Homo sapiens: one gene and its partners. The protein of the gene in region 3 interacts with the protein of the main gene of each other region in a pairwise test. Each region holds a gene or a part of one and is shown on either strand. Other genes may lie near its edges.

What was found.
Region 1: the proteins of OSGIN1 (region 3) and SAXO1 interact in binary tests that used the Homo sapiens proteins (3 or more experiments, as listed by UniProt).
Region 2: the proteins of OSGIN1 (region 3) and MEIS2 interact in binary tests that used the Homo sapiens proteins (3 or more experiments, as listed by UniProt).
Region 4: the proteins of OSGIN1 (region 3) and CAPN3 interact in binary tests that used the Homo sapiens proteins (3 or more experiments, as listed by UniProt).

What each region holds. Positions count from the first base shown.
Region 1 is NC_000009.12:18,939,198-18,946,235, reverse strand, and holds part of SAXO1 (stabilizer of axonemal microtubules 1), read left to right. Parts: intron 1-4,396; coding exon 4,397-4,599; intron 4,600-7,038. UniProt on the Homo sapiens protein: May play a role in the regulation of cilium length. Stabilizes microtubules at low temperature.
Region 2 is NC_000015.10:36,888,701-36,894,584, reverse strand, and holds the end of MEIS2 (homeobox protein Meis2), read left to right. Parts: intron 1-2,125; coding exon 2,126-2,412; 3' UTR 2,413-5,381; downstream 5,382-5,884. UniProt on the Homo sapiens protein: Involved in transcriptional regulation. Binds to HOX or PBX proteins to form dimers, or to a DNA-bound dimer of PBX and HOX proteins and thought to have a role in stabilization of the homeoprotein-DNA complex.
Region 3 is NC_000016.10:83,963,235-83,966,865, forward strand, and holds the end of OSGIN1 (oxidative stress-induced growth inhibitor 1), read left to right. Parts: intron 1-1,827; coding exon 1,828-2,773; 3' UTR 2,774-3,098; downstream 3,099-3,631. UniProt on the Homo sapiens protein: Monooxygenase catalytic activity. Involved in regulation of cytokinesis; promotes RHOA activity, probably acting locally at the midbody in late cytokinesis.
Region 4 is NC_000015.10:42,354,507-42,362,534, reverse strand, and holds the start of CAPN3 (calpain-3), read right to left. Parts: upstream 3,035-8,028; 5' UTR 2,730-3,034; coding exon 2,421-2,729; intron 1-2,420. UniProt on the Homo sapiens protein: Calcium-regulated non-lysosomal thiol-protease. Proteolytically cleaves CTBP1 at 'His-409'. Mediates, with UTP25, the proteasome-independent degradation of p53/TP53.

The DNA of each region.
Region 1 (7,038 bases), on a different chromosome or scaffold from region 3:
GGCACGATCTCGGCTCACCGCAACTTCCTCCTCCCGAGTTCAAGCGATTCTCCTGCCTCAGCCTCCCGAGTAGTTAGGATTACAGGTGTGTCCCACCACATCCAGCTAATTTTGTATTTTTAGTAGAGATGGGGTTTCTCCATGTTGGTCAGGCTGGTCTCATACTCCTGACATCTGGTGATCCGCCTGCCTTGGCCTCCCAAAGTGCTGGGATTACAAGCATGGGCCACCGTGCCCGGCCAGCCTTCTGGTTTTTGTAGTCAAGAAAAGGTGATTACCTAAAAGATCTGCCTTTTAGCTGCCCTCCCTTGCACAGACTGGAGCTGACCTTCAGGCTGGAAGCTTTGAATCTTAAATAGTTAATGGAAAATTAAGCAATGAAGCCTCACACAGTGCCATTTTCTGCTTCCACCTGTTGGCTCTCCCCAGAATCTACCTTTTTAGAGCTTTAAAGTCATTTGAAATAGTTTGCCTAGGGTTTATATGAAGTGGTGACAGATATTTGCCTCAGCCTTAGTGGGAGTTGAGGGACTCAGAGGGCAGAGGAGAAGACAGGTGCTATGTAACTTGGATTCTGGAGTGCATGGGCTTGGAATCCCATCTGTTATAGTGAAGGTAAGGAGGACTCTGTGTCCCATAAGGACCAGGGGCATGAATCAAACCCTGTGATTCAGCCAAGGATCTTTTGCAGCACAATGGGATGGACTCCCCAAGCTGCCTAGGATGGGAGAATAGTTTCTCTAGAAGGGTGCCTTTTGACATTGGGAAGTTTGAGAATAGCATATAGAAGTGACAAAGTCAATCAAATCAACTGACAAAGAGCAGAACCCCATAGAAGACATGGAGAAAAGATCATGAGGAGTGGTATCACGGAAGTCAAGGGAGAGAGTATTGAAAAATTGAGTGAGAGGATGGATGCTATGAACAACCACAGTGGGATAAGGTTGAGAAGCAGCGGTTGGGTCTGGAAAACAAGGTGATGCTTGGAGTATCCAGGAGTGAGGGGAATCAGATCTGATGGGTGGGACATGAGGAGAGGAAGGCAAGTCTGTACTTGTAGACAACACTTTCTGGAAGACAGAAGGGAAAACTGGAGGAGAATGGAGCTCAGTGAGGATAGTGTCTTGTTTTACTCTTTACCTTTAAAGATGGGAGGTAACACTCAATGGAGAAAGGAGGCAGTAGGGAGGAAGAGAGAAAAGCATGGCCTAGGAGATGGTCTGCAGATGAGATTCCCGAGAAAGAGGGCAGGGGTGAGAGAGGTTGGCTTTGGCCAAGAGGAGGAACTCCTTTTAAGATGGATTCCATTTTAATATAATTGATTACTTGGACACACTAATATATCTTCAAGTTTGCATAAATAAACATTAAAAACAGGTTTAAAAAAAGTGTTGCATGGCCCTTTGTCATGGTGAAAATCTTCATTTCCCACTGCCAGGCTCAGGACCCTAGCTCACTGTTACGTTATTTCCTCTTTCCTTTTGTCAGAGAGTTGTCAAACACCTTTCTTCAGCTTTGCTAAATGATTTGAAGTCAAGTTGTTATGACTTCCCCAGCAGGACCACTCCAACTTTTTACTTAACTCTGAGTTTAACTCTTGGCCTTCCCTACTCTATAACTTTTATAGCTACTTACCTAAAAGAAACTTACTTCTCTGACCAGTTTCTTTTTCTTGGTTCATGTCACATGTGCACAGAGACTGGGAAATGTACCACAGAAAGAGAGGGGAGATCCAGTGTTCTTAAAAAGAAAAGCTAGTTAATTGGAGCAATTCTGGGGAGACTAAAATATAGACTTTTCTTTTACGTGAATTTAAAGGCTGTAAGATTATGTGTGATTGGGGACATGCAGTTATGTTGCGGTTAATGACAGGTTTCAGTGAATGTTCTCAACATAAAAACATAATGAGGAAACACATAAATTCTGATTAAATTCACTCCTAAGCCACAGTAACTATGTTTGGGTAGGTTATAAAAAAGTCAAACTTTAAAATTTTTCTTCTCTTCAGAAGTAGATACCGCTTCCCCCCACCCCCCATAATCATTTGCCTTAGTTATGGCTGATCAATAAATTAAACCATAGAGGAACACTTACAAAGGAACTTAAATTTTATACTGGAAAAGGCGATTGGCTTTTGTCTTTGGGAAACCAATTTCAGAATAGTCTGTGAACTGGTGAATTTGGTTTTGGGCTTTTGTCTGCTCTTTTCCGGTAGAAGCCGTGGGAGATGCGCAATAAGCGTGCTTTAGTTTTCAAGAGTCTGGCAGCCTTTGAAGGGAGGTTTCTGCGGCATCCCTGAGAGGAAGCTGGTCCTCTTGGTCAGAGTAACTGCAGAAGAGGCTGCTATGGACTCTGTGTGCAGGGTCCCTGAGAGTGGCAGCCTCACAACTGGAAAGCATCCCTAGATGCTCTGAGGTTGGGTGGGCTCAGCACGGCAGCTCAGGCGCCCAGCTTTGTTCCTCACTGCATGCCCTTGGTACCTCCTGATACTCCTTGGAAATGAATAGGGTGTAGGCTTAGGTAGCCATCACTGAGCACAGGCTTTTATAAGGGTTTAGGAATGTGTGGTCTCAGGCTGCCTTGAAACCTGTCCATCCCTTCTGAGAGTGAGGAGAGCTCAACTTCCCTTGGGAGCACTCCCTTTAGAATGTACACTTTCTGACCAAGAGTCCCTTTCCACTCAGCTGGTTTTCAGATGGAGTTTTCTGGGCATTTTCATTTGTCTTTGTAGCCTAAGGACTTACCCTCTTAGTTCCCTGCTACAATTGGTTTAGTGCTGAATAGACACCAGGGTGTAGTACTTGCTCACTGAGAACAGCAGAAGTAGGAGCTGACCCTTGGCTGCTTGTTCAGTCCATTCCCTCCATAAGCCCCGATATGTACAGTCAGCTTCCAGACACTTCAGGCTAACAGCAGGGCCCCTAGGAAGGGAGCCCAGGCTGAATGTCCTATAACTGCCGCTAAGATATATTTTTAAATCTACCCAGAGGGTGTTAGGGGAGTTCAACTGAAGCATCTCCCATTTCCTCCTTAGAGCCCTAGAGAGACTAATTCTCCTGCTTCCTAACTTCCTTCTCCCATCCCACTAAGCATTTTCAGGACCCGGTTCGGGTTTACTGACAATCATGTGTATAATTCACGCAAGACAGGTTACAGTGGAGCGTGTTACCTTTGCTAGTCAAGCATGGCTGAGTAATGCTGCTCCAGATTTTGGCCAGGAAGTGGGTTTTATTGGTGTTTGGGCCTAACGTTTTCCTGTCCGGAAACCTTCCCCTTCCCTTGACAGGGATGTTCTGGCAAGCACCATCAGGAAAAATCTACCTTCCCTTTGTCCAGTTGAATAAATGGGTTCCAGGCAAAAACAGTTTGTTGTGTAAAACAGACACCCTTCAGAGGGAAATGTTAGCATTGAGAGGTGGGAAGTTGCGAGTGCCCTGGAGGGCAACACAAGTCCGAGCTAAGCCCTGGCTCCTTAGGGCGGTTCCTGGTGGGCATTGCAGTGAGCATCTGGGCCTTTTTATCTGGGATGCTTTGGGGAGGGACTGCTTCCTGTTTAGTGAAGACCATTATACTTTTTCGATCCTATTGTTTTGGTACTCCCTGAAACAATGGGGGCGCAGACACCAGATAGCAGAGAAATGAAGGAGTCAGGGTTTCCAGTTATTTCACTGTTTTCCTCTTCTGGGTTTTCTGTAGGCTAAGTAGAGGAAAGAGATAAACATTAGCAGGAGAAGCTTTTGGGAACACAGAGAAGGTGGCAGCGGCACCTGAAAGGAAGATACCTCCGCAGTGAAGGGGTTGGGTGGAAGGAAGGTGGAGAGCGCAGCAGTAGAAACGGTGGCATTGTGGTTGGAGTGCAGGGTTTTCAGGTGGGGTGGGGATCGTGAGAGACAAGGGTGAGTCAGGCAGGAGCCAGGTCCAGAAAGGCTTATAAATTATGCCAGGAAGTTGAATTTTACCTGGAAGAGTTTTAAACTGGGGAAAGCCATCTGATTTCCATTTAGAGAGTTTATTCTGGCCACATTATGGTGATTGAATAGAAGTGGTAGGAATGAAGGAGGAAGCTCAGGTGGCAGGCTGTTAGTGAGAAATTGTCAGGATCTGGACCAAGGGGAAAGAAAAACCAATGAGGTGGAGGGGCACTGGTGGTGATAGACTCTGGGGCCGTGAGGAAAGGAGGTCAAAGATGAATACAGGTGTCTGAGTTGGGTGAGAAGGAATTGATGGTACCCTTCTCAAAAGTGGGAAATAGAGGAGAAACAGTTCGGGGGAGGAGGGAAGGCAGGTAGAGTAGAACAGGACTTCTCAGCAAATGTTTGTAGAGTTGGGTTGAGCAGAAAACATAAGCCTTATCGCAAGCCAAGGACCCCAACAGCATGCACTTGCTTCCTTACAGGAGAGATTTTGGGCCTCACAAAGTGGCACCAGTGAAGGTCCACCAGTATGACCAGTTCGTCCCGAGTGAAGAGAATATGGATTTGCTCACGACGTATAAGAAAGATTACAATCCCTACCCTGTCTGTCGAGTGGACCCCATCAAACCTCGGGACAGTAAATATCCATGTAGCGACAAGATGGAGTGTTTGCCTACTTATAAAGGTGGGAGAGCACAGAGGGGCAGATTGGGGGAAAGACAGGCTGAGCCTGTGTGCGGGCCAGGAAATGTGTTTTATGTGCATACTCAGTTAGTGCAAGAGTTGGCAGACTACTTCCTACGGGCCAGATCTGGCCAGCAGCCTGTTTTTGTATAGCTGGAGAGCTAAGAAGAGTTAAGCATTTTTTTTTAATAATTGAAAAACAAATCAAAAGGATATAATTTGAGGACTGTGAAAATGATATAAAATTGAAAATTCAGTGTTCATGTTTTATTGGAACGCAGCCATATTCATTCATTTACGCAGTATCGATGGCTACTTTTTTTTTTAGCATAGTAGCAAAGTTGAGTAGTTGTTGACAGAGACACTACAGTCTGTGAGGCATAAGACACTTAATACCTGGCTCTTATACAAAATATCTGCCAACCCCTGCCTTAGCTTGCAGTTTGAATCCTATATTGGGGGAAGCATTTCAAGTTCAGGCTAAGTTAGTTTCTACCACTGATTAAGTGATTGATTCATTCACATGTTTAAAAAATATATCAAAATGTAACATACATATGGAAAAGTATACAAATTATAATTATAGAGATCAATAAATTTGCACTGAACAAATCCATATAAACAGTACCCAGATCAAGAGATAAAACATTACTACTCCATTTCTGTTACCCTCCCCAATGAGAATATAACCATTATTTTAACCTTTAATACTTTAAATTAGTTTCGCCAGTTTTGAACTTTATATAAATAGGATTGCTTCTTTCTTTATTGAGTATCTATTGATATTACCTATGAGGTGTGGTCCTAGAAACTGAAGGAAGCATAATGGCCTGCCCTTGACTTTCTAGCCTAGTGGAGAGACAAGATACGTGGTCATATGTGTTTTGCTAGCAGACAGCCACTCTATGGAGCTCAGCTGCAAAGACTGAGACCATGAGACTGGAGACCAGGTTTGTAATCAATAACTCATGCTTATGATACCAACCTTTGCCTTGCCCTAGGAGGACAAGCTGAACAGTTCACGGACCTCTAAATGCTGTGAATAGAGAGGGCCACTTTTATTTAGTCAAGCCAAGCATTTAGGGTGAAGAGGGTGGTGGAGGTAGGGAGGTTGGAGGGATGTGAGCTCCTAGAAGGGCCTCTAATTCTGTCATCCTGGAGGACCCTGTGCTTAGTTGAGTTTCTCTGATTCTTCCAGGAACTGAAGACTGGATTGGCGTGGGCCTCTTCAGCAACCTGGGCTCTGCCCTTTTATTTTCTTTAGCTTCTTCCTCTAACACTCCCCCATAGATAGCTACCTTTGGTCAAGCCACCTTTTATCAGCAGTACAAGAACTGACTAATATTCTGAATGTTATCATACCCTGAAATGGCCCCACCTCTGAAGTCTTTGTGCACATCGGCATCCTGTCCTCTGGGCTTGTCCTCTTATCTCCTCCCACCACGACAGTCCTTGGCCTTTTTGGGACCTCCAGTCCATTGACGTCTTAATCCTCCCTCTTACCACCAGCCGCTCCTGTGTCTGTCCCTCCCCATGGAGTCTCTACTTCATGGCCTATCTTTGGAGCCCAGCTCCTACTGATAGCCGAGAGTCCCTCTCTCTTCAGCCCTTTTGCTGTTTCCTCCTAGCAAAGCCCTAATCCTGTTTTCCCCATGTCTACACCTGGGCACACACCTGAGCATATCTCCAGTCTTGTCAGCTTTTACTCATTTTCCACAGAAAGGGAGCAGAGCAGTCTTCTATACATGGCAATCTGATCTGACCACTCCTTTGTATAAAACTCCTCAGATAATCATTTGATAAAATCATTATTTTGTCTAATCATATCATTTTATCAAACGATAAAATCATTATTTTATCAAATCATATTATTTTATCAAATCATATGATCCTATTACGATAAAAACCCAAACCTTTTCTGCCTCCTCTGATGCCTTGGAAGTCCTGGTGTCTTCTAAGCCCCTCTGCTCCAGCCTCAGGGCCTTCTTTCAGGTCCCTTCCTACATTTCTTTTCTGCTTCAGGGCATTTGTTTAGCACATGTGATGCCTTCTATATAGAATCCTTCTGCTTCCTTAATCTAGCACTTATCCTTTCAGCTAGCAGCTGAAAGATCACATTCTGAGCCCTTCCGCCATGTCAGGCTGGATGCTATATGGGTGCCTTGCACTCCCCTGTCTTATCATGCATTGTGTACTTTTAATGCTTCCTTTAATGGCCAGGCTGTAACCTCCAAGGGGCAGGGATCTGTTTGTCTTTTTCTTTCCCAATTACCCTCTCACAGCAGGCACCACACAGGAGTCCATACAACCAGGTGTATGACCATGGGTAGGGTGTTGGGGGGCACTTTTGCCTCTACTGAATGCATTCTTCTCCTTTTTAATCCAGTGTTTACAAGAAGACCAGAAATAAGGCAGCACAGACATTGAGCTAGTGGGATAG
Region 2 (5,884 bases), on a different chromosome or scaffold from region 3:
ATATATATCACCCATCTCTGAAGTCACAGATGACACTGATGTGCACTTTTGAAAAGGCCAACTGACAAGCCTGCGTGTGTTTTAAGCAGGTGGGACTGCCTTTTAGCCTATTTACTGTGGCCCCAATGTGCACAAACACAGACATCAGGCAGATATTGGACATTTAAGAATAAAAATAATGTCTTGGGGGCACCAGTTGACTGAGAGAAATTAAGCAGGCTTCAATGAAGCGATAAAAAAAAAAAGGAAAAGTAGAACTGTCCTTTGAGTGACATAAATCTGTCAGAATACGATTGATGCCCAAATTATCTTATATGCAAAGATGAAATGCTGCAGTTCATTATGCCTAGTCTAGATATATGACAGCAGTGACACCATTGATTCTTCACTAGGGAGTCGGTGTGTTTTGATTATTTTTTACATGTGCCTACTGACTTCCGACATGAGACAGAAAGACAGGAAAGTCAGTCAATAAATTTAAAGGGAAAGACATTTAGGAGCAACTGAATATGAAGGAATGGATTTTTCACTGAGGCTGAATGGCTGCAGTTGGATTAAGAAACCCATTAGACTTTAAAGCTTCAAGTGTTTTTGACATCTGAAAAAAATTCAGAGTCTGCCAACAAGATATATCCTTTGCTGAAGACACCAGAGCATAAAAAAATTCATATAACATTGAAACTTCCTTGTTTAATGAGGCTGAATATAACAACACGTACCTTGATTAAATCATTCTCTATATGTAAATAGAGGCCAACATTTTATAGGGGAGCTCAGGGGGTCACCACGGCACACCATTGATGAAGCCAATTTCCTTCCTTCCTTCCTTTACTAATGCAGTCAAAAAATGTAGAAAGCAATGTTCCCTAAAACAGCTATAGAGAAAACATTTGCTCAGCTTGGATAGTTCTTAATATAGGCCATATAATTTCTAGCCTATTTAATTACATAACATATTTTATGCTTCATGACCAATTACATTAATAGCTTAATACAGAAGAATATTATCCTCTCTTGATTTGATTATGCAGCCACACAATATGGTATATTTGGTACTTAATTATCATCATCCATTGAGCAGGCTGCTGTGGTAGAATAAACAGAGAGCTGGGACTATGCAGGCTGTGTTATTGTCTTTAGATGGTTTTGCCACTTCTGTTAATAATGGACTGCGGATCTACTTAACAAAATGACTGCAGCATATAAGCCTTTAGATTACCAGCTTACAGTGTCAAAAACATCTGTTCAGCTTTTCAACTGTATGCACTGGAGGTTAAATAGAGGTGAATAAAGCTGTCCTTTTAGATCCGGGGATGTGCAACAGTAAATATAACCTTAATTCAATAAACAGGTAACTTGTAAGAGAAATCAGAATCCTTACAATTGCTGACTTCCCACCATTTAACTCATAACTTTGAATGTTGCATATCTCAATTGAGAATTTCTACATTTATTACATTTTATTCCTAATATCAAGGCATTATTTGGGGGGATTTTCAGAGATAAACTACCGGGCATGTCATATGACCTCACATTGACTTCTTACCTTTGACCTTTACAATCTCTTGGGTGTACTGCTATAGGAATGCCTCTAATTCAAAAAGGGGGCTTCATTTTAAATACACGTAAAAGCTCATTTCTTCAAAATGAATATGCTGTAATGTTTTGTGTAATAAATTTTTCATGAGGAAATATAGATATGATAAGATGTCAATTTTATTTTATTCTACTATCTACAATTTTTGTCCAGGTCTACAAATGCAACACAGAAAAATAAATGATCTATCAACAGTTAACTGATAAAACTCGACTCAAAATTTATATTCTTATTGCATTTATCAAAGAAATGTACTGAATACCATTTTGAAAAACAGTTCCACTTTATGACATTTAGTTGCATTAAATATTTAGTTCTGTTGTGTTGCATTATACTGCTGTGCGATGAAATTAAATGCAAACTACAATTTGAATGTCTGCAAACATTGGCAAGAATCTGCAGCTAAATTTAGGTATAAGATTTGCAGTGTCTGTTGTTTTTTTTTTTTTTTTCTTTTCATCTTTGATGGGTAAAGTATAAAAATGTTTAGGAATTTGACCCGCTTTCTTTTTCCCTCTCTATTTTCAGGTTTGCAGAGCATGCCAGGGGACTACGTTTCTCAGGGTGGTCCTATGGGAATGAGTATGGCACAGCCAAGTTACACTCCTCCCCAGATGACCCCACACCCTACTCAATTAAGACATGGACCCCCAATGCATTCATATTTGCCAAGCCATCCCCACCACCCAGCCATGATGATGCACGGAGGACCCCCTACCCACCCTGGAATGACTATGTCAGCACAGAGCCCCACAATGTTAAATTCTGTAGATCCCAATGTTGGCGGACAGGTTATGGACATTCATGCCCAATAGTATAAGGGAACTCAAGGGAAAAGGAAACACACGCAAAAACTATTTTAAGACTTTCTGAACTTTGACCAGATGTTGACACTTAATATGAAATTCCAGACAGCTGTGATTATTTTTTACTTTTGTCATTTTTCATCAAGCAACAGAGGACCAATGCAACAAGAACACAAATGTGAAATCATGGGCTGACTGAGACAATTCTGTCCATGTAAAGATCCTCTGGAAAAAGACTCCGAGAGTTATAACTACTGTAGTATAAATATAGGAACTAAGTTAAACTTGTACATTTCTGTTGATCACGCCGTTATGTTGCCTCAAATAGTTTTAGAAGAGAAAAAAAAATATATCCTTGTTTTCCACACTATGTGTGTTGTTCCCAAAAGAATGACTGTTTTGGTTCATCAGTGAATTCACCATCCAGGAGAGACTGTGGTATATATTTTAAACCTGTTGGGCCAATGAGAAAAGAACCACACTGGAGATCATGATGAACTTTTGGCTGAACCTCATCACTCGAACTCCAGCTTCAAGAATGTGTTTTCATGCCCGGCCTTTGTTCCTCCATAAATGTGTCCTTTAGTTTCAAACAGATCTTTATAGTTCGTGCTTCATAAGCCAATTCTTATTATTATTTTTGGGGGACTCTTCTTCAAAGAGCTTGCCAATGAAGATTTAAAGACAGAGCAGGAGCTTCTTCCAGGAGTTCTGAGCCTTGGTTGTGGACAAAACAATCTTAAGTTGGGCAGCTTTCCTCAACACAAAAAAAAGTTATTAATGGTCATTGAACCATAACTAGGACTTTATCAGAAACTCAAAGCTTGGGGGATAAAAAGGAGCAAGAGAATACTGTAACAAACTTCGTACAGAGTTCGGTCTATTAATTGTTTCATGTTAGATATTCTATGTGTTTACCTCAATTGAAAAAAAAAAGAATGTTTTTGCTAGTATCAGATCTGCTGTGGAATTGGTATTGTATGTCCATGAATTCTTCTTTTCTCAGCACGTGTTCCTCACTAGAAGAAAATGCTGTTACCTTTAAGCTTTGTCAAATTTACATTAAAATACTTGTATGAGGACTGTGACGTTATGTTAAAAAAAAAAAGGTGTTAAGTCACAAAAAGCGGTAATAAATATTTCATTTTTGATTTTTTGTTAGGCTTTTGCGTTTTTAATGGTTTTAGGACAAGACTGCACAATGCCAACTCTATACAGTGTTAAAAGTAGGTTTTTCCCCCCAGCAGTTGAGTATATTTTAAACTCATCAATAATTTTTAAGGTAATCATCTATAGCCTTTCAATGTCTATTTGACCTATAAGTTCCACCAGCAGAAAACTTCTAAAGGTACGAAACTATGTGTACATGATGAGCCAGGTTGAAAGATCCCCTTGAACATGCTCAACCTCCTTTTTAGATGCATGACGTTAAAAAATATATACTTTCAGATAAAGCTTTTCATGGGCATCCTCTGCCAGAATAAAGGACTTTTCAGGGTTAATTTTACAACATAAGAAATAATGTCTGTGCTCAAAGGTAATTTATCTGCCTGTGTTTTTCCTCTGCCTGTCTTACTACAATATTGTTGGATATGTAAATGAAAATTTACATATGGGTGTTCATAGATAAGTAAACAACTTCTATGGAGTTTGAAATTCTGACTTTAAAAGATTACTTAATCATTAATATTTTATAAATTATATTGTGGTATATTTTTATTTCAGACACATCCATGTGCAGGGATGCTAGTGTGATGATTTGATAACTAAACTTAAACTTTTTTCTGAAAACAAAACAAAACAAAATGGACGGTATAATGCCATTTTCAAAATTTTATGCAACATTCCTGGAAATCTATACCATTAGCTTATTGATACTGCACAAACAATGTCTGCTAAAGTGTGCAAAAAGGGTGAGGCATGTCCCCTCAATTTTCAAATAAATATACTATCCTGGAATTTTTTAACTCTTAAATTTTGAATCTTTGTTTAGAAAGAATAATGTCATATACTTTGGCTAGATATGTGATGTCAACCGGCTAAGGAAATTATTCATCATCTCTGCAAACTTAAACTTGGAAGAAATCCATAGTTATTATTTGGGGCTCTTCCATCTTTCCATTTCAGACAGCATTTATGGAGGTTCTATATAAATGAACGAGGAAATACACTTCTATTGTTTTGTGTTATATTTAGTCAGGTAGAATTTTTACAAATACATTTCAGTTTAAGTGTTGTGTTGCTGTTTAAACATAGAAATAATGCTTCTGACACAAACTAACTTAATAGAGAAATTCAGTGCCACTTGGGAAAGAGAGATAGCTTCCCTCTCATTTTTGCTATTCTATTTTACATGAAGTCTTTTTGTAAATTTTAAATATTTGCCTATTTTTACTTTAAATACTTTTATGTAAACTATGAAAATTCCCCATTATAAATCAACTCTCACATCAGGTGGGAAAAAGAACCTTTTTTTCTTTCCACTCAGTAAATTCTGAAGGGTTTCCTTGGCAATTGGCTCGTGTTTAGGATGTGTTTTATGCAATTATCAAGTTATCTCATTGAAGTTTAGAGACCAGAGCTCTCAACTCTTGGTTTTAATGAATAAAGTCATCTCATGCTTAGTTTATTCGTCAAACCCACGTCCTATCATGTTAACTTTAACCTTCTTAAATATTTGGAGATGAATGATAATTGTAATATTTGTTTGCATTACCTTGCTCTCCCCCACCCCCAACCCCATGATAACACAGAGAAGTGATAGATTTGTCCAATTTTTATAATGCTTTTTTTACACCACCCCGGAAGGCACTTGCTCCTATCTCGGGTTTACTATTTAGTGTAAAGAGTTCCGATTTGGGTATATTTAAGAAAGACTCAGCTGTCAAAAGCAAAGAAACTGGGAATGGTGTTTTGACAACCATATAGTGTTAAAGGAAATACTGTAGTCTGAATAAAATTGCTTATGTTCTCCAAAACAAGAGTAATATAAAAACACTTTTTTATTTATATGAAAAAGCAAAAGCAGAAATAAATTCCAAAGGTTTCCCTTTCTTTAAGAAATTCTGAGAGAACTGCAGTCGCCATCTGTTAAGGGTTGGGAATTGAGCAAGAAGCCACATTTTAAACGAAAAAGAGAGAAAAGACCAGGAAAGTCTGTGTCTTCCGTCCACCCCTCCTCTCTTCCACCCCCTAGGTCAGCACCCCTCACGCCCCTCAGCTCTCACCCTCGTTAGAGTCCACCAGGATCCTCCTGCCTCCTCACCCCCTCCCGCCCCCGCGGGCCTGTTAACCCGGAGCAGATTTGGGAAGGGAAATGTGGCTAATATCTCTAGCAGCTGTCAAAGGAGGGACCTTCCTTCAAAGGGACTGGACAGGGATCCTCCACAAGTTCTCCATTAGCTAGCAGGCCAGCAATTTGATAAGGAGCCTGGACCTCCGCTACAAGTTGCCACTCAGTTAGAAAGTCCGGTGTCCGGGT
Region 3 (3,631 bases):
ACATTTCGCTTGTAAGCACAGCCTTTTATAGGCTCATTTTGCATTTTCACATTGTATCCCAAGCGTTTCATGTGGTGAAGTCACAGCGTTCAAAACCATCCTTTTACATGGCCTCACAATATTCCCAAAGGCGAGTGAGCATCCCCAGTCCAGCAAATCTTCACCGAATGCTTATTATGTGCCAGGCCTTGGGCTTAGACGTCAGAGCACAAAACCACCGCAGACACACCCCCTGCCTCATGGCACTGCCAAGGTTACCCAGCCCCTGCCAGCCCTGGAGCATTCATTCTTTCCATTGTGTCATTATTATAAATAACTCTGCACAGAACATGCTCTTGGGACCGTTCTGTGTCACAATCTTTACAAAAACTGAGAAAAGAATGACTGCCCACAGAGATAAATTCCAGGGTCGCAGACGGGCTGCGCTGGGTTGACTGGCACGGCCTTGGGGGTCCATTGTCAGCTCCTGCTACATGTAGCCGGACGGCAGGTGGCACAGGATTCTCCCGTATGGGAGTTCATCTTGAACCATGAGCCCACAAGCTGGGTAGATTAACTCATCTAAGGTCACACAGTGAGATACAGGAAGGTGCTAGAATGATGCAAAGCCTGTCATTCAACCGCCACAAGAATGGGCCTGCAGTCACTGCCCCTGGAAAGAGTGACAATCCAAACAACAACAACAATAATAGAATACCTCCTGCTGCTGCGTGGGCTGGGAACGATGGTGAGTGCGTCACATGGGAGTCTTTAAATCAACTTTAAATCAACTTTTTGACTACATATAGGCTGGGTGCGGTGGCGCAAGCCTGTAATCCCAGCACTTTGGGAGGCCGAGGCTGGTGGATCACTTGAGGTCAAGAGTTCGAAACCATCCTGGCCAACATGGCAAAACCCCATCTCTAATAAAAATACAAAAATTAGCCAGGTATGGCGCTGCATGCCTGTAGTTCCAGCTGCTCAGGAGGCCGAGGTATGAGAATCACCTGAGCCCGGGAGGCAGGGGCTGCAGCGAGCTGAGATCACACCACGGCACTCCAGCCTGGGCAGCAGAGTGAGACTCTGTCTCAAAAAATTAAAATAAAATAAAATAAAATAAAATAAAATAATAAATTGGCTACATATAGAAAAGTACGTAACTCCTGTGAGTACAGGTTGATGAAATTTCTCAAGGTAAGCACAGAGAATGAAGAAGCAGGCCCCCTCCCAGAAGCCCCCATGCCCTTTCTGATCAGGATCCCATTCCCCATCCCCGGAGGTAACCCCTCTCTTGACATCCAGCTCCATAGATGAGTTCTGCCTGTTTCTGAACTCTGTAAAAATGGAATCATACCATATTTAATCATTTGAGGTGACAATCATGGTGGCCTATCCTTACATGGCACTTACTTCCAGTCAGGTTCCATCCTAAGCACTTTGTGTTTGTCAGCTCACCAAATCCTCCCCACGACCTCACGAAATAGGTCCTGCCACCAACATCTTCCTCATTTTGCAAACTGGGGAAACAGACACAGCTCCCTGATGGCAGAGTCAGGATTCGAGCCCAGGCAGCGGGGCTCTGGAGGCTGCCCTCTGAACCCCACCCTACACCACCCTAGAGCATCCTACACCACCCTACACCACCTCTCCTGAGGGAGGCACCCTTGTTAGCTCCATTTTACAGAAGAGGAGACTGAGGCTTAGAGAGGTTGAATTACCTGGCCTAGTCCTACAGCTACAGCCTAGTCCAGCTCCAGGGCCTGACACTGCCCTGGACATCTCCCGTCCCACCCAGCCCCCCAACCCCTAACAGTGTCTGACTCTGGCGTCCTGCATCCTCCCCAACAGAGGTCTTCGCAACAGCCGGGCCACTGCCGGGGACATCGCCCACTACTACAGGGACTACGTGGTCAAGAAGGGTCTGGGGCATAACTTTGTGTCCGGTGCTGTAGTCACAGCCGTGGAGTGGGGGACCCCCGATCCCAGCAGCTGTGGGGCCCAGGACTCCAGCCCCCTCTTCCAGGTGAGCGGCTTCCTGACCAGGAACCAGGCCCAGCAGCCCTTCTCGCTGTGGGCCCGCAACGTGGTCCTCGCCACAGGCACGTTCGACAGCCCGGCCCGGCTGGGCATCCCCGGGGAGGCCCTGCCCTTCATCCACCATGAGCTGTCTGCCCTGGAGGCCGCCACAAGGGTGGGTGCGGTGACCCCGGCCTCAGACCCTGTCCTCATCATTGGCGCGGGGCTGTCAGCGGCCGACGCGGTCCTCTACGCCCGCCACTACAACATCCCGGTGATCCATGCCTTCCGCCGGGCCGTGGACGACCCTGGCCTGGTGTTCAACCAGCTGCCCAAGATGCTGTACCCCGAGTACCACAAGGTGCACCAGATGATGCGGGAGCAGTCCATCCTGTCGCCCAGCCCCTATGAGGGTTACCGCAGCCTCCCCAGGCACCAGCTGCTGTGCTTCAAGGAAGACTGCCAGGCCGTGTTCCAGGACCTCGAGGGTGTCGAGAAGGTGTTTGGGGTCTCCCTGGTGCTGGTCCTCATCGGCTCCCACCCCGACCTCTCCTTCCTGCCTGGGGCAGGGGCTGACTTTGCAGTGGATCCTGACCAGCCGCTGAGCGCCAAGAGGAACCCCATTGACGTGGACCCCTTCACCTACCAGAGCACCCGCCAGGAGGGCCTGTACGCCATGGGGCCGCTGGCCGGGGACAACTTCGTGAGGTTTGTGCAGGGGGGCGCCTTGGCTGTGGCCAGCTCCCTGCTAAGGAAGGAGACCAGGAAGCCACCCTAACACTCGGCCAGACCCGCTGGCTCCCAGGCCCTGAGAGGACAGAGATGACCACATCCCTGCTGGATGCAGGACCCGTCCAAAGATGCCCCGGGGAGGGGTGTCAGCCCACGTTGCTGGCCTTTGGGGTCAAGAGGAGTAGGGATCCCAGGCTGCCCTGGACTTAGACCAGTGTCTGAGGTGGTAACAGCGGCCGCAGGCCAGGGTTGGCCTAGACCTGGGATTTGTGGGGAAAGCTGCTGGTGTGACCAGCTGAGCACCCAGCCAGGAGACCTGCAGCCCTGCGCCTTCCAGAAGCAGGTCCCAAATAAAGCCAGTGCCCACCTGCTCTCATGCGTCTGAGGACTCTGTGCTCGGAGGGAGCTGCGTTCCCGGAACCCTGCACTGGGCTGGGGGGAAGGGAGGAAAGGGGATTGTGGGAGGAGTCCTGGGGCATGTGGTCCTGGATGAGGTCCATGGCTGGGGCCTTGGGGTACAAAGGATGGTGCCCCAAGTGTGGGGGCAGTTGAGCGGGCAGCTGTACTAGAGTCTGGGGGTGGGAGTGGCGGGTGTGTGCAGGCAGTGATGTCCAGGAGGGCGCTGCAGCCCCGCCCCCTCCGCAGCCTGTCCCAGGCCTCCCTCCTCTCTGTTCTGCCATGCGGCCTCCTTTCAGTCCCTCCTGCTGGCCAGGTCTCTGCCTGCCCCAAGGCCTTTGCACAGAGAGTCCCCAGCCCAGGACAGTTTCCCGCCTTTCTTTAACTCCTTTTCCTTGGGATGTCTCAGCATAAGAATCACTTCCTCTAGGAAGCCTCTTCTGACACAAACCCCTCCACTGCCGTCACAGCAAATACTCCTTTCATGGTCTAAGGTGCTACCTTTTCA
Region 4 (8,028 bases), on a different chromosome or scaffold from region 3:
GTCCTTTAGTGACTCAAACAGTGGAAAATCCAGGATCTTTGTTGTTGGTGATGGTGGTGGTGGGGGCACAATTTAGAACAGACAAGTCTTCTGCACCCCTCATTTCAAACATGGACACTGCCCAATCTAGTACCTAGAGCATAACAGGCCCTTAAAGAATTTTTATTAATTTGTAAGTCTCGCTTGAAGACTCAAGTCCACCAATGATTTCACTGAAAACAGTATTTGTAGGTTTTAATTTTCCCCATTCTGAGAAAGAGCTTTTATTTTTTTAAACTTTTTTTATAGAGATAGGGTCTCACTATGTTGCCCAGGCTGGTCTCCAACTCCTGAGCTCAATTGATGCTCCCACCTCTGCCTCCCAAAGTGCTAGGATTACAGGCATGAGCCTCCATGTCTGGCCCAAGAAAGGGCTTTTAGGAACTCCCTGCCTGGGAACGCAGGCCTATCCTGTCTCACTGGTCAAGGCCCTTGGGCGTGGGTTTTCACTCACCAGCATCAGCTGAGTACCCACTATGGGACTGGCCTGAGCTTGGTGAGGGGGCCTCAAAGATGAACAGGAAGGATTTCTGCTCTCAGTGAGAGGAAATCAGTCATGAGAAAGATTGAAGGAAGTGACACCTGAGCAGAGGTTCAGATAGGAACAAAAAAGGCATGTCAGGCAGACAGACAGCATGAGCAAAGGCCTCCGGTGTGAGAAGACTTGGAACTACAGAGCAGCTAAATGTCCAAGCACTGCTGGTGTGTCAGGATCTGGGGAAAGAGGATGGACATGGGCCTGGACAGGTAGGCAGGGACCAGCTGAGAAGGGCCTATGGCTTGGCTAAGGAGTTTGGACTTGTCCTGAAGGCAGTGGGGGCCGAGAGAGGGATGTCACTGAAGATATTTCAGCAGGGGGTTGTGACATGTCCAACTACTCTGATAGCAGAGTAGTGTTATCTTCTAAACTGAAGGCCTTCAGGACAGTTATGGGCCTTACCATAGAACCAAGAAGAGCCCCTATGGAATATACAGGGTTGTCTAGTACTCCACCTCAGGTTTGTTGTTGTTATTGTTGTTGTTTGAGACTGGGTCTCACTCCTGTCACCCAGCCTGGAGTGCAGTGGCATGATCTCGGCTCACTGCTGCCTCAACTCCCCGAGTTCAAGTGATCTTCCCACCTCAGCCTCTGAGTAGCTAGGACCACAGGCATGTGCCACCATGCCTGGATAATTTTTTGAATTTTTAGTACAAAAGAGATAGGTTTTCACCCTGTTGCCCAGGCTGGTCTCTAACTCTTGGGCTCAAGCAATCCTCCAGCCTGGGCCTTCCAAAATGCTGGGTTTATAGGCATGAGCCACCATGCCTGGCCCACCTTAGGTTAAAGAAAACCATGGCTAATCAATAGTATTGGGTCTCAGCTTGTCATCATTTCCTCAGAGAGGGTTTGTCTCCCTGGACCAGGTTAGCTCTCCTTGCCACATGATCCTGTGGCACCCAGAACATCGTCTCCTGACAATGTCACTCTTGTTCAATGCCCATCTTCCCTTCAGGACCCTAGGTTCCAAGACAGCTGGAATTTTGGTCTTTCTTACTCACTGCTGTCCCCCCAGTTGCTTGCCCAGTGCTGGCACTAGTAGATGCTCAATAAATATTTCTCGAATTAAGAACAAGAGTCACACTGGAGGGATGATCAGAGAGGTGAGCCAGGGGAATGTGATTTCCCTCCTGGCGATCACTGTAAATGAAACCCAGAGGCTGGGAGAGTTTCCTAAAACAGAAAGTTTTAATCCGGGCTCTGTCATGTGCCCACTAGATATATTTCACTCTAGTGTGCCTTGACTCCTCACTTATGAGGTGAGGTAGGTGGACAAAAGCGATTGCTAGGTCTCTCTCTCTTTAACCCCAACATTTTATGCATGAAAAAATATTCCTTGCCTATGACTCTTCTCTTTCTAGGGTTTCTGTGTTTCAGAAAGATATGGCCATTGGTAAATTAAAGAAGAATAACATCATGATTTTAGCCAGAGAAACTGAAATAATCTTACAAAGATGAATAATATTTAAAACGAACAGGTACATCTGGGCTGTCTGGAATTTGTTCTGAGAAAGGAATATTTATTTTTACAGGATGAATTAAACTGAGTTCCACCCACTTTTATAAAAAGCAAGATTTTTTTTTTTTTTTCAGAGAGAAAGAGCCAGAGCATAAGAATCAGCCCCACCTCCTGCGCTCTCCCTCTGGATTTTGCTGAGATTTGGTGAAATATCTGAGACCTGTTCCTCTCCTCCCTGCTTCACACTTAAAGACAGAGCCCAGCAGAGCTGCTGCCAGGATCCTTCCCCCAGTGCCCATGTGCACAGCTGAGCTGCCGGAGGTGCTGAGTGAGAGGACTCCTCCGTGGGGGGAAAACCCAGCCAGCAAGCAGGAAGCTACTCACCGGAGGTCTCTTCCAGACGAACTGGATGGGGAACTTCTGGCTATAAAAGAGAGAGGTCTCATCCGGTGGGAACTCAGGGTCCACATAAAGAACTTTCTTTTCTAGACATTTCTTGTGAAGTTGCTCGAATGTCTTCTCTTTCACTCCGATAATAGGAAAATTGCGGCTGATGATGGCTGAATAGATGCCACTTGGGTTTCCACCCCCAGCCTCAGTGGCCTTGCTCTGGGCCGGGTGAGGAACTGGCCCTGGGGACCGGGGCTCAGCCGCTGTCCTTGGAGCCACAGATGCGCTAATGACGGTCGGCATGGCAAGTGGCTTTGGAAGAAAAAGCTTTTTAAAGAAAATAAGATACAGCTACCTTCAAGGAAAGGAAGCAACTGCAAAGGGGAAGTTGGAGTAATTCTGTCATCTGAGAGAAAAGTGTCCACATCCAGTTCAAAGTTGAAAGCCCATCAGAAGGTCGTACAGGTTATGTCCATCTTAAAAACCGAGCTGTGATTCTGAAGCCATAAGTTCTCCTGAGAAATGAGTGCTAAAGGATTTCTGAAGCAATGTTGACTTGGGGGTCTCCTACCAGCAGCATGCATGCCAGAGGGAGAGAGAAAGAGAGTGAGGGTTGTGTTTCAGTGGCCTGAAGATGCTTGAGCCAGGAAAACTAAAAATAGATGTGAAGAAACACTGTGAGTATGAGAGCAAGAGAGACTGCATGGTAGAGAGAGAACCTGGCTAGGGACATTTCTGTTGCCATGAAGTGCTGGTGTTGCCAGAAAATGAAAAGGGAGTATCTGAGTAAGGTGAACACTGGAAAGAAGCTGAGAACTGCTGACATGTTATTGAGTAGGCAGTTATACAGACCACCCAACTACTGGCCATCAAATGAATGGAAAACAATATTGCAAAAAAGCTAGTTAGGGTGAACGGGAGGTACTGAATTCTACAAAAATATTCTGTGAATTTTAGAGAACATGATTTTTAGTCCTAAAATTTTAGGATATCAGAACATTATTCAATGTTAGATTTGGTATCTTTTTTAGAATGTTCTTGGGTCAGCGCTCATTGGAAATGTCTGCATGGAAAATGCTACTCAGCAGAGTCCTCATTTGAGAAAATCCCTGTCTCTACCTGCACACTTGACCTTGCCACCTCTTGTCTCTCCCCATCCACAAAATGAACACTGGGACTGAATCTGCTAAAAAGTGGTCCTGCTGGGCCATGTGGCTCACGTCTCTAATCTCTGCACTTTGGGAGGCCGAGGCGGGTGGATCACATGAGGTCAGGAGTTCGAGACCAGCATGGCCAACAATAGTGAAACCCTGTCTCTACTAAAAATACAAAAATAAGCCGGGTGTGGCGGCGGGTGCCTGTAATCCCAGCTACTTGGGAGGCTGAGACAGAAGAATTGCTTGAACCCAGGAGGCAGAGGTTGTAGTGAACCCAGATCACGCCACTGCACTCCAGCCCAGGTGACAGAAAGAGACTCCGTCTTAAAAAAAAAAAAAAGTGCACCTGAGCAGAGAAAATCCTCACTTAACATCATCGATAGGTTCTCGTAAGCTGTGACTTTAAGCAAAATGATGTACTGTATAGTGAAACCAGGCTAACTGATATAAACAAGAGTTAAGTCCCTACAGCACACGGTATGTTTTCGTTAAAGTCACAGTTTACAAGCACCTATCAATGATGTTAAGTGAGGACTTACTGTACAGGTTATATGTTGACTCATTCAGCCATGCCACATTAGGCATCTGAGACAGAAGTTGGAATTAGATACTGAACCAGACTGTCTGTCAACTCCTGGGATGTCACACCTGGTTTCAGGGCTCTTAGATGAGAGCATAAGTGGCTCTGGGGAAGGGAAGTGCCTGCCTGGCCTCCACCTTGTCTTCTACCCACAATAGCTGCTCCCTGGGCTGTAAGGAGATGAGCACATTTCAAGTATGGCAGAGTGGAGGCATGTCCTAGGCTGCAGTCATGCCTGTTCCCATGCGACCAGTCTCAATAATCCAAGATTAGAGGCTATGGAAGAAGGTGGGAAGTGACAGGTAAAATAGGGAGTACTATCAGCCTCCTGATCCCTGGGATTGCGGCTTTGAAGGACTCTATGTCTGGGCTTGCAGGAACCATCAGCCTAGCCATCTGTCCCTCCAAGAAAATGCCCAGGGCTTTTTACTAGTCTTGGAGAGGCAGAATAGAGGACAGTGGTCTCTGGTGACTGACCACCTCGGTTCAAAGTCTAGGTTGGCCCCTTATTGGCTGTGCCTGTGTAACTTTAGGTGAGTTATTTCTTCCTTTCTGTCTCAGATTTCTCACCTATAAAATAGGTACAATTACAGTCATTCTGTTATTAGGTTTTGGTAACAATTAAATAATTTATGTAATACATTTTACACAGTGCCAGGATTTTCTTAAGCACTCAATAAATGGTGTTGTTAGAGAAGACCTGAATTTAATATTACTTTGGAGTTAGATCAGGTCGAATGCTACATTTACTCGCTGACGCAAATCAGCATCCACTCAATGGGCATTAACTGAATATCTGCTATGTGGACAGCACAGGAATAGGTATAATCTGCCCAGGCTCATGTGGTATGCAGCATCTCCAATCAGAAGCTGGCCTATCTGCCTGCAACAAAAAGACTGACTTCCACCCTCAAAGTCACCAGTGGCATAGACAGCAAAGGTGGGGTTTCTTTCCCCCACTGTCATAAGTTTGGGTCCCAGCCTAGCATTCTATCCCACCCTGAAATTCAGAGCACTGACCCACACTGTATTGTTTTTGCTTATTTAACTTCCCGTTTGCCCATAAGACCGTGGAGCTGGGAAGTGGGTTCCCATTTCCCTCTCAGGTTTAGAAGGCCCTTAATAAATGCGTGTTATATATCTGGTGAATGAAATTTTCCTATGCAAAGAGAAATTTCTTACACTTCTGGCTTTGCCAGTGCAATCAAAGTTTCTCTGCTGATCTGCTCCAGGCGAAGGAGCTGTCTTGGGCCGCATACCCACTGAGCTTTCTTTCCTCAGCTGTCTCAGCCAGCACCATCTGTGAGTAACTAACAGAAGTGTGTGACACCAGCGAGCCTCTTGTCAGAGCAGGGTGGGCATATCAAACACAGAAAGGGCAAGGTGCCATTCATTTTGCTCTGTCAGTTGTTGTGGATAAAACATTCTCTCAGATGAACAGGTCCAAACTCAAGGTTTATTCAATGGCACAGCTGTGGAAACCAATGCTATCAGGGAGAAGTCCAACTCGAGCCCATGAACAAAGGGCAGATAATGAACACATAAACAACTGCACATTTCAATTCCCAGAAGCCCCTTCAAGGATAAAGAACTAGTTTTTATAACATATTTCACCCACGGTCATGTAATATCTGTGGCTGGAATGGTTTCTGCTGCACAGCATTGCCAACTAATGGCTCTGTCTTTTCCACCAAGAAGCATTTCTTTGATTACTAACACTATTGGAAGCAATGTCTTTGCTTATCATTATAATACCTCTCATTCATTAAGTGCCTACTGGGAGCTAGCCACTTCACAGAGACCTTTAAAAAACTTTTTATTTTAAAATAATTTTAGACTTACAAAAGACTTGCAAAGACTTACAAAAGAGTTGCAAAGATAGTGTCCTCCAGTCTCTGATCATTCCACAGTCTTTGTCTCTCATGACCGTGACACTTTTGAAGAGTACTTGTCAGGTTTTTGTAGAATGACCCTAAATTTGGGTTTCTCTGATATTTTTCACATGATTAGACTGAGGTTATGGATTTAGGGGAAGACTGTCACAGATGTGACATGGCTACCTCCTCAAACCATATTTGGGGGCACATGATATTGATAGGTTTTATTACAGGTGATGTCAACTTTGATCACTTGCCTAAAGTGATGTTTACTGGGTTTCTCCCTGGTAATGTTACTATTTTTCCCTTTCTGTACACATAAGATATTTTAAATTTGTAGAAAAACTCTGCAAGTTTCACTAAGTCCATTTTACAACTGAGGAAACTTGAGATATCTGCTGTATTTTGACAGTTAAGTATCAGAAAACTCACAAAATTTTAGAGATTATCTCTCTTTTTTTTTTTTTAGATGGAGTCTCTCTCTGTCACCAGGCTGGAGTGCACTGGTGCAATCTTAGCTCACTGCAACTTCCGCCTCCCGGGTTCAAGCGATTCTCCTGCCTCAGTCTCCTGAACAGCTGAGATTACAGGCATGTGCCACCATGCCCTGCTAATTTTTGTTATTTTTAGTAGAGATGGGGCTTCACCATGTTGGCCAGGTTGGTCTCGAACTCCTGAACTCAAGTGAACCCCCTGCCTCGGCCTCCCAAAGTGCTGGGATTACAGGCGTAAGCCACTGCACCCAGGCTAGAGATTATCTCTTTTCTTTAACAAAGCCCAGAGAGGTCAAATGCCATGGCCAAGATCACTCAGCCAGTTCACTGTAGAAGCAAACTAGACTCCAGGTCTCTTGATTTCCTTGGAAGTAAATGCTTGACTAAGATTTAATTGATGTGAATTAGGTATAAGATCTCTGTATCCTTGCATGTAAATAGTCAGGCTCCCCTTTCCCTGGCTCTGATTGGACAGCAATCTAATACCGTCGGCCTGGGTGGAAACAACTGTCAAGAAGCAGCTGTTGCACTTTGGGAGGCAGAGGCAGGTGGATTACATGAGGTCAGGAGTTCGAGGTCAGCCTGGCCAACATGGTGAAAACCTTTCTCTACTAAAAATACAAAAATTAGCTGGGCCTGGTGGAGCATGCCTGTAATCTCGGTTACTCAGGATGCTGAGGCAGAAGAATCGCTTGAACCCGGAAAGCAGAGGTTGCAGTTAGCCGAGATCGTGCCATTGCACTCCATCCTGGGTGACAGAGCAAGATTCTGTCTCAATAAAAAAAAAAAAAAAAAAAAAAAAAGCAGCAGCAGCTGTCTAATTCTGGCAAGTCTTCGTGTGGCACTATAGCCTTTAGCAAGGCTTGTCATGAGACAAGCAGATCTGATATAAGATGCCAATGTCTCTGCTATTTCTCCTAGAATGCTAGCTATATGGCCTCCATTGTCAGTGGCTAATATGATAGCCTGTTTCCAGTGGAGCTGCTGATGGCTTTCTACCCACTGGCCTGAGAAGTTATTTTAGTCTAGAGTAGCCCTTCGAGGGTTTGGTAGGTGGAAATCCTAGGAATCTCATTACTAAGGCTTTCAGGCAGAGTGGTTAATTAGCTAAAAACTATTCAACTCCCAGTGTTTATGTGCTTTGACTGTGTTTCTGCTGCTTATCATTTTGATGCCTTGATAGTGAAAAGGATGTGACAAAGTGAAGGAATTCTGCACACAGACCAAACTCCAGAATTGTATTTTTCTTAAAACCAAGAAAATTCTTCTATATGATCCTAATACAATGCTCAAAAGTAAAAAAATTACCATGTAATCAAAAGATCCCATTCCAATGTTGCCAACTGTTCCAACAGAGGAGGTAAGGCCAGGCACAGTGGCTCATGCCTATAGCCCCAGCCCTTTGGGAGGTCAAGGCAGGAGGATTGTTTGAGTCCGGGAGTTCAAGACTAGCCTGGGCAACATAGTGAGACCCCCACATATTTTTATTAAAAT